2 separate regions of the Homo sapiens genome follow, and region 1 is linked to region 2. The links come from fine-mapping of genetic effects on gene expression. A gene starts in region 2. The other region holds a variant in brackets. All regions are shown on one strand. Distances are from middle to middle. Region 1 has its middle 160 kb from the start of DCUN1D4. Region 2 holds the start of SGCB (sarcoglycan beta).

The links. PIP is the estimated chance that this variant, and not a neighbour inherited with it, causes the effect.
Region 1: its variant is the best candidate, but not a certain one, in a credible set for the expression of SGCB in fetal neocortex (Walker 2019, PIP 0.65).

The regions. Positions count from the first base shown.
Region 1 is chr4:51,681,667-51,686,061 of GRCh38, reverse strand. No RefSeq gene overlaps it. Among named protein-coding and RNA genes, the nearest start is that of DCUN1D4, 160 kb to the left of the region's middle. The variant AC/C (reference allele first, on the strand shown) is at 2,759.
Region 2 is chr4:52,036,162-52,040,489 of GRCh38, reverse strand. SGCB (sarcoglycan beta) reads left to right here and starts at 2,191. Exons shown (of 6, transcript NM_000232.5): 1 at 2,191-2,263. The coding sequence starts at 2,231. RefSeq lists a silencer at 1,979-2,418 and an enhancer at 2,659-2,778.

The DNA of each region.
Region 1 (4,395 bases), 350 kb after region 2:
GTCCGCTTCCAGGTAGTGCAGAAAGAGTGTTTCAAACCTGCTCTATGAAAGGAAGTGTTCAACTCTACTGAGTTGAATGCAAACATCACAGAGATGTTTCCGAGAATGCTTCTGTCTTGATTTTATATGAAGATATTCCGGTTTCCAACGAAATCTTCAAAGCTATCCAAATATCCACCTGCAGATTCTACAAAAGGAGTGTTTCCAAAATGCTGTATCAAAACAAAGGTTCAACTCTGTTAGTTGAGGACACACATCACAAATAAGTTTCTGAGAATGCTTCTGTCTAGTTTTTATTTGAAGGTATTTCCTTTCTCTCCATAGGCCTGAAAGCGCTTGAAATGCCCACTTCCAGATACTAGAGAAAGAGTGTTTCAAACCTGCTCTATGAAAGGGAATGTTCAATTCTGTGACTTGAATGCAAACATCACAAAGAAGTTCCTGAGAATGCTTCTCTCTAGATATTATATGTCATCCCGTTTCCAACGAAATCCTCAAAGCTATCCAAATATCCACTTGCAGATTCTACAAAAAGAGTGTTTCAAAACTGCTCTGTCAAAAGGATGGTTCAACACTGTTACATGAGTACACACAACACAAAGAAGTTTCTGAGAATGCTTCTTTCTGGTTTCTATGAGAAGATATTTCCTTTTTCACCATAGGACTCAAAGCGCTCGAAATGTCCTCTTCCAGGTAGTGCAGAAAGAGTGTTTCAAACCTGCTCTATGAAAGGAAGTGTACAACTCCATGAGCTGAATGCAAACATCACTGAGAAGTTTCTGAGAATGCTTCTGTTTGATTTTCTATGAAGAAATTCCCGTTTCCAACGAAATCTTCAGAGCTATCCACATATCCACCTGCAGATTCTACAAAAGGAGTGTTTCCAAAATGCTGTATCAAAACCAAAGTTCAACTCTGTTAGTTGAGGACACACATCACAAATAAGTTTCTGAGAATGCTTCTGTCTAGATTCTATATGAAGATATCCCCTTTCCAACGAATCCCTCTAAGCTATCCAAATATCCACCTGCAGATTCTACAAAAAGAGTGTTTCCAAAATGCTGTATCAAAACAAAGTTTCAACTCTGTTAGTTGAGGACACACATCACAAATAAGTTTGAGGATGCTTCTGTCTAGTTTTAATTTGAAGATATTTCCTTTCTCCCCATAGGCCTGAAAGCGCTTGAAATGTCCACTTCCAGATACTACAGAATGAGTGTTTCAAACCTGCTCTATCAAAGTGAATGTTCAATTCTGTGACTTCAATGCAAACATCACAAAGTAGTTCCTGAGAATGCTTCTCTCTAGATTTTATACGTAATCCCGCTTCCAACGAAATCCTCAGAGCCATCCGAATATCCACTTTCTGATTCCACAAAAAGAGTGTTTTAAAACGGCTCTGTAAAAACAAAAGTTCAACTCTGTTAGTTGAATACACACATCACAAACAAGTTTCTGAGAATGCTTCTGTCTAGTTTTTATGGGAAGATATTTCCTTTTTCACCATAGGCCTCAAAGCGCTCGAAATGTCCGCTTCCAGATAGTGCAGAAAGAGTGTTTCAAACGTGCTCTATAAAAGGGAATATTCAACTCTGTGACTTGAATGGAAACATCACAAAGCAGTTTCTGAGAATGCTTCCCTCTAGATTTTATATGGAGATATTCCCTTTTCCAACGAAATCTTCAAATCTATCTAAATATCAACTTGCAGATTCTACTCAAGGAATGTTTCCAAAATGCTGTATCCAGGCAATGGTTCAACTCTGTTAATTGAGGACATACAGCACAAAGAAGTTTCTGAGAATGCTTCTGTCTAGATTTTATATGAAGATATCCCGTTTCCAACGAAATCCTCAAAGCTATCCAAATATCCACTTGCAGATTCTACAAAAAGATTGTTTCAAAACTGCTGTGTCAAGAGGAAGGTTCAACTCTGTTACTTGAGTACACACATCAAAAAGAAGTTTCTGAGAATGCTTGTTTCTGGTTTTTATGAGAAGATATTTCCTTTTTCACCATAGGCCTCAAAGCGCTGCAAATGTCCACTTCCAAATATTACAAAAAGAGTGTTTCAAACCTGCTCTATGAAAGGAAGTTTTCAACTCTATGAGTGGAATGCAAACATCACAGAGAAGTTTCTGAGAATGCATCTGTCTTGAGTTTCTATGAAGAAATTCCCATTTCCAACGAAATCTTAAAATCTATCCAAATATCCACCTGCAGATTCTACAAAAGGAGTGTTTCCAAAATCCTGTATCAAAACAAAGGTTCAACTGTGTTCGTTTACGACACACATCACAAATAAGTTTCTGAGAATCCTTCTGTCTAGTTTTTAATTTGAAGGTATTTCCTTTCTCCCTATAGGCCTGAAAGCGCTTGAAATGTCCACTTCCAGATACTACAGAAAGAGTGTTTCAAACCTGCACTATGAAAAGGAATGTTCAATTCTGTGACTTGAATGCAAACATCAGAAAGAAGTTCCTGAGAATGCTTCTCTCTAGATTTTATACGTCACCCCGTTTCCAACGAAATCCACAAAGCTATCCAATTATCCACTTTCAGATTCCACAAAAAGAGTGTTTTAAAACTGCTCTGTAACAGAAATGTTCAGCTCTGTTAGTTGAATACACACATCACAAACAAGTTTCTGAGACGGCTTCTGTCTAGTTTTTATGGGAAGATATTTCCTTTTAACCATAGGCCTCAAAGAGCTCGAAATATCCACTTCCAGGTAGTGCCGAAAGAGTGTTTCAAACCT[AC/C]TCTATAAAAGGGAATATTCAACTCTGTGACTTGAATGCAAACATCACAAAGCAGTTTCTGAGAATGCTTCCGTCTAGATTTTCTATGAAGATATTCCCGTTTCCAACGAAATCTTCAAAGCTATCTAAATATCAACTTGCAGATTCTACTAAAGGAATGTCTCCAAAATGCTGTATCCAAACAAAGGTTCAGCTCTGTGAATTGAGGACATACAGCACAAAGAAGTTTCTGAGAATGCTCCTGTCTGGATTTTATATGAAGATAACCCGTTTCCAACGAATTCCTCAAAGCTATCCAAATATCCACTTGCAGATTCTACCAAAAGAGTGTTTCAAAACTGCTCTGTCAAAAGGAAGGTTCAACACTGTTACTTGAGTACACACAACACAAAGAAGTTTCTGAGAATGCTTCTTTCTGGTTTTTATGAGAAGATATTTCCTTTTTCACCATAGGCCTCAAAGCGCTCGAAATGTCCGCTTCCAGGTAGTGCAGAAAGAGTGTTTCAAACCTGCTCTATGAAAGGAAGTGTTCAACTCTACTGAGTTGAATGCAAACATCACAGAGATGTTTCCCGAGAATGCTTCTGTCTTGATTTTATATGAAGATATTCCGGTTTCCAACGAAATCTTCAAAGCTATCCAAATATCCACCTGCAGATTCTACAAAAGGAGTGTTTCCAAAATGCTGTATCAAAACAAAGGTTCAACTCTGTTAGTTGAGGACACACATCACAAATAAGTTTCTGAGAATGCTTCTGTCTAGTTTTTATTTGAAGGTATTTCCTTTCTCTCCATAGGCCTGAAAGCGCTTGAAATGCCCACTTCCAGATACTAGAGAAAGAGTGTTTCAAACCTGCTCTATGAAAGGGAATGTTCAATTCTGTGACTTGAATGCAAACATCACAAAGAAGTTCCTGAGAATGCTTCTGTCTAGATTTAATATGAAGATAACCCGTTTCCAACGAAATCCTCAAAGCTATCCAAATATCCACTTGCAGATTCTACAAAAAGAGTGTTTCAAAACTGCTCTGTCAAAAGGATGGTTCAACACTGTTACATGAGTACACACAACACAAAGAAGTTTCTGAGAACGCTTCTTTCTGGTTTCTATGAGAAGATATTTCCTTTTTCACCATAGGACTCAAAGCGCTCGAAATGTCCTCTTCCAGGTAGTGCAGAAAGAGTGTTTCAAACCGGCTCTATGAAAGGAAGTGTTCAACTCCATGAACTGAATGCAAACATCACTGAGAAGTTTCTGAGAATGCTTCTGTTTGATTTTATATGAAGAAATTCCCGTTTCCAACGAAATCTTCAAAGCTATCCACATATCCACCTGCAGATTCTTCAAAAGGAGTGTTTCCAAAATGCTGTATCAAAACCAAGGTTCAACTCTGTTAGTTGAGGACACACATCACAAATAAGTTTCTGAGAATGCTTCTGTCTAGATTCTATATGAAGATATCCCCTTTCCAACGAATCCCTCTAAGCTATCCAAATATCCACCTGCAGATTCTACAAAAAGAGTGTTTCCAAAATGCTGTATCAAAACAAAGTTTCAACTCTGTTAGTTGAGGACACACATCACAAATAAGTTTGAGGATGCTTCTGTCTAGTTTTTATTCGAAGATATTTCCTT
Region 2 (4,328 bases):
GTCAGCTTCTAAAGGCCCTACCTCCTAATATCATCACACTGGGGGCTAAGATTTCCACATGTGAAATATTCAGGGGAGACACAAACATTCATTCTATAGCAATCTGCAAAGACTCTGTTTCAAAGTAACACCACGTTCACAGATACTGGAGGTTAGGACTTGGATATGCCTTTTTGCAGGGCACTATTCAAACCACTGCAAAGTGAACAAAGGTGTAAGTGTCTTCATAATCTGACTCATACTCCAGCCCTGGGGACCTGTGTTTTGTGCTTCCAAATGCTAATATCATGCAACAGTCAAAAGAAAGAGCAAAATTAAAGGCTGTGATGTATGGTAGAAAGAGCAAAGACTAGTCAGATGGACCTAGATTCAATACTGGCTCTTTAGGAGTTGAAAAGATGGTCAGCCATTTAACCTCTACAAGCCTTGATTTCTTCATTTGTAAAAGAGGCATTGCCAGGCACAGAGTTGACTTTAAATGTCATTATTTCAGGGGAAAAAAGGCTGACAATAGTACATTTGAAAATAACCCACATTAAAATGTGGTCATGTGAGTGAATTGGATCTCTTTAAAAGAGAATAGAAATTGGCATTAAGAATAGTGGGATGTCCTGTCAGAGATGGACATCAGCGATGAGGAAAGAATCCAAGAGAAGGTGATATTCAAATAGCCAAAGGAGCATTTGGTTTCAGGAAAATTGGCTACCAGGTATCTCACCACCTAAGTGGGAGGGAGGTTGGCAAAATCAAGTCAGGGCTTAGAAATTGGGATACTGGGCAGATTTCTAAGATATCTATTAAGTTTAATTACTGTGCTAGACATTGGAGATTAAACGATGAGTAAGACACCTACCTTCCAGATAGAACACACCATCTTTTGAATGAAATCAGCAGGTAGACAAGATAAAAATACAATGCAATCTGAAGTGCTAGAAAAGGCTAGGCACACAGTTAAGGAACAGATCTGTGGGAGCCTCTGAAGCCTTTAGAGAAAATATGACGTTTGAATAGAATAGTTCTTGAAGGATGAATAAGAGTGCGCGTGCCAGGGAAGAAGAACTTTCCCAGCAGAGAGAAAAACGCAAAGCTTAGGAATTAAGGACTAGAAGATAGGAACTCAGAATCAGTTAAAAGCCCAGTTGTGCAAATTGATCAATGAGACCACAGGCAGAATATTAACACAGAGCCTTACTGCTGACTCCTGCATCATTGGGCTTTAACTTAGAATTTTCCTGCCTAAAATGCATGTTTGTCCCACAGACTCAGAGAGGAGTGAGTCTAGAGATATGAGTCAAGTGGTTCCAGCATTTAGGAAAAAAGAAATGCAGAGAGACTGATGACCAGCTAGGTACTGACTCCCACTGAATTAGACAGTACTAGGGCCCAAAGGTGCTTATTAGAAGTGATTCAGCTACATGAGGAACAGTTGCTATTGACTTCACTGCATTTTTTTTCAGCTAAAATAATTATTGGATTATATCTACAACAGGGAACAATGAATGTCTACTCAAGTAACTCGTACATTTGAGTGGCTTCCCGGTGTTCAGTAAATGTCCGTTCAATTAGGTTCCCGAGGATATACATGGTAACACTATCTCCAACACTAAATGAAAAATCCATCCCCAGTATCGCAGGATAAAAACATCAGACTTCATAGGCCTCCGAAGTCAAGCAGCCCGAAGGATTCAACGTCCTCCTTGAGGACTCTCAGTCTTCAAGACTCCAGCCACCTAAGTGACCACTCGTTCACTTCTGCCCACGCAGTCACCACGCCGGTCCGCGTCCACTTGTGGTCTCGATATCGGCCCCTCCCACCCTAGCCAAGGAGACCTTGGTCCGAGAAACAAAGAGAGCCTCACAGCTCCGGATGGCACCGATCTTTCAGCGATGGGGAACAAAGGGGAAGGGGAGAAGCGTCCTCGATTTTTGAGGGTGCCCTTTCTGAGGAATCTGCAGGCGGCCCGGGGTGGAGCGGAATCCCCATAGGCCCCTTCTGGCCCCTGTGCAATACAACGCGCCCCAGGCCAAGGTCCTAGGTGCAGGGGCCGCCGCAGAGCCTGAGCCCGCAGGGCTGGGATGCGGGTCGTCAGGGATGCGGGCTGGGGAGGGGAGGGTGTGAGCAGCGGGTGCCCCCAGTCCCCGCCAGGGCGCAAGCGCAGGCGCGCAGGGTGCGGTCGCGGAGGGGCGGGCACAGTCGGGCGGGGAGCTCGGCGGCGGCGGGCGCGGGAAGATGGCGGCAGCGGCGGCGGCGGCTGCAGAACAGGTCTGTGAGTACCGCCGCGGCCGCGGGCTGGAGGAGCGGGGGAGGCCGCGTCCTGCCGGCTGGGCCCGCGGGAGCCCTGGCCGGGGGTGCGGGGGGCGCGGGCCGCAGGGTCTGGGTTCGGCGGGGCCGATCGGGGCGGGGCGGGGCGGGAGGAGCTGTGCCCCGCCGAGGATGCTGGCACAAGCTAGGGACCAGGAGCCAGGGGCGGCCTCGGGCTCGGCCCGGCCTGGCTGATCCTCGGAGGGGGTGAGGAGGGGTCTCCTTCCGGAGAGCCTGGGAGGCGGTCGAGCCAGCCTGGAAGCCTGCGCTGGGACGTGCCAGGGACGTACCCCGTTCAGCCGCCAGCAGAGATTTGGATAAAAATAACCGCAGCCCCAGCGAGAAGGCTCCTCTTACAAGAAACGGGTCAGCTGTTGCCCCGGTGTCAGCTTGCCATCTTTGTTTTTTGTTTCTGCCATCTCCAATATGCAGACATCCCAGATTTCCCCTCACGCTTTGGTTTTTGAAGATTTAGTCACCAGTCTAAAACTATCTCCTGTTCACTTTTAAAAATGATTTATCCAAGATTTCCTGACCTGCATTGTAAACTTGTAACTTAGAATGGTTTAAAAGGCTCCTCATCCCCCCAAAATCTAGTTATACGTATGCATACATGTACATGCATATGTGTGTGTGTTAATATATACATACACGTAATCGCTAGGGTGATTTATTGTAATACAGATAATTTTCAGTAACTTTCCCCCTTACCTAACTTACTTTTCCTTTGAACAATTATAGTAGTTTCTCTTTAAAAAGTCTCATTCTAAAACATTGTTGAAAAAAATGAGTCAAGTTTTGACCTTTGGAACGATTTTCTTAGATAATTAACTTTTTAGAGACCTATTAGATATATGTCACTGGAGGGCTCATTCTGAAGATAAAAGACGTAAAATCTCTCTTCAAGGAGCTTAAAGTCATACAGCCAAATACATGCAGAAAAAATCAGCTAAAGACAATAGGCAGGCTGCAGATTTGTAACAGTAAAATAAAACATAGAGGAATGAGTGAAACTGAAAGGAGACAAAACTTCTTGGAGTTGGTATTTAAATTGTGCCTTGGCTTTCCTCATTTCCCGCCTAAGTTATCAGCTTCTGTTTCAGATGATTGTTTTTCCATCTGGTTCTATTTTTGCTTTACACATAAGTGGGGCAGTCTGATCCGTTACTCAGTCTCCACTTCAAATTTACGCATTACGTCTCCAGCCCTGAACTTAACTGAATTTTCCATAGGCACCTCAAACTCAAAAATGTTCAAAACTGGACTCTGTCATACTTACTATTAAAAAGGCTACAACCATCCATTCACTTGTTTAACCTAGCCAGAAACTTAGGACCAAGGCCATTTTAAGGGAGCTGAGAAGGACCTGCACTTGGTTTAATGTTCTGCTGTCCTGGGCTTGAGATTTAAACAGTGAGCCCCACATTTTCTTTTCCCCCTGGGCCCCACAAATTATATAGCCAGTCCTATTTGGGAGTCATCTTCGACCCCTTTGTGCCACACTCATATCCAAACAATCACGAGATCCTGACAGTTCTACCTCTTAACACCTTTCCCCAGACTTCAGCTTCAAAGTCAAACCTCAGTCAGTACCTCATTGGGACTCTTAGAGAAACCTGCTGTTGATATCTTCACTTCTAGGCTCTTCAGTTCCAGTTCATCTCTTTTTGGAGTGATTTTACTACAATGCAAATCTGATTGTATAGGAAACCTATTTTAACTCTTCAGTAGTTCCCCTTTGCCTTCAGGATAAAGTCCATTGTTCTTGTCATGGTATTTATGTTGCTTACTGGCCCCTAAGCACATCTCTCATTGTATTTCTTGCTTCATCCCTACACCTATCCTTCTCACCATCCACATAAAGTGACCAAAATTAGTTCTCCCAGAGATGGTTGCCTCTCAAAGTCTCCATGCTTCTTCCTCTGCCTAGAGTGACCTTCTTAGCTCTTTTGCCTGGTTAACTCCTGTCCATCCTTCAAGAGTTAACTCAACCTTCAGCTTTTCTTAGAAACTTTCCCTGATGCCC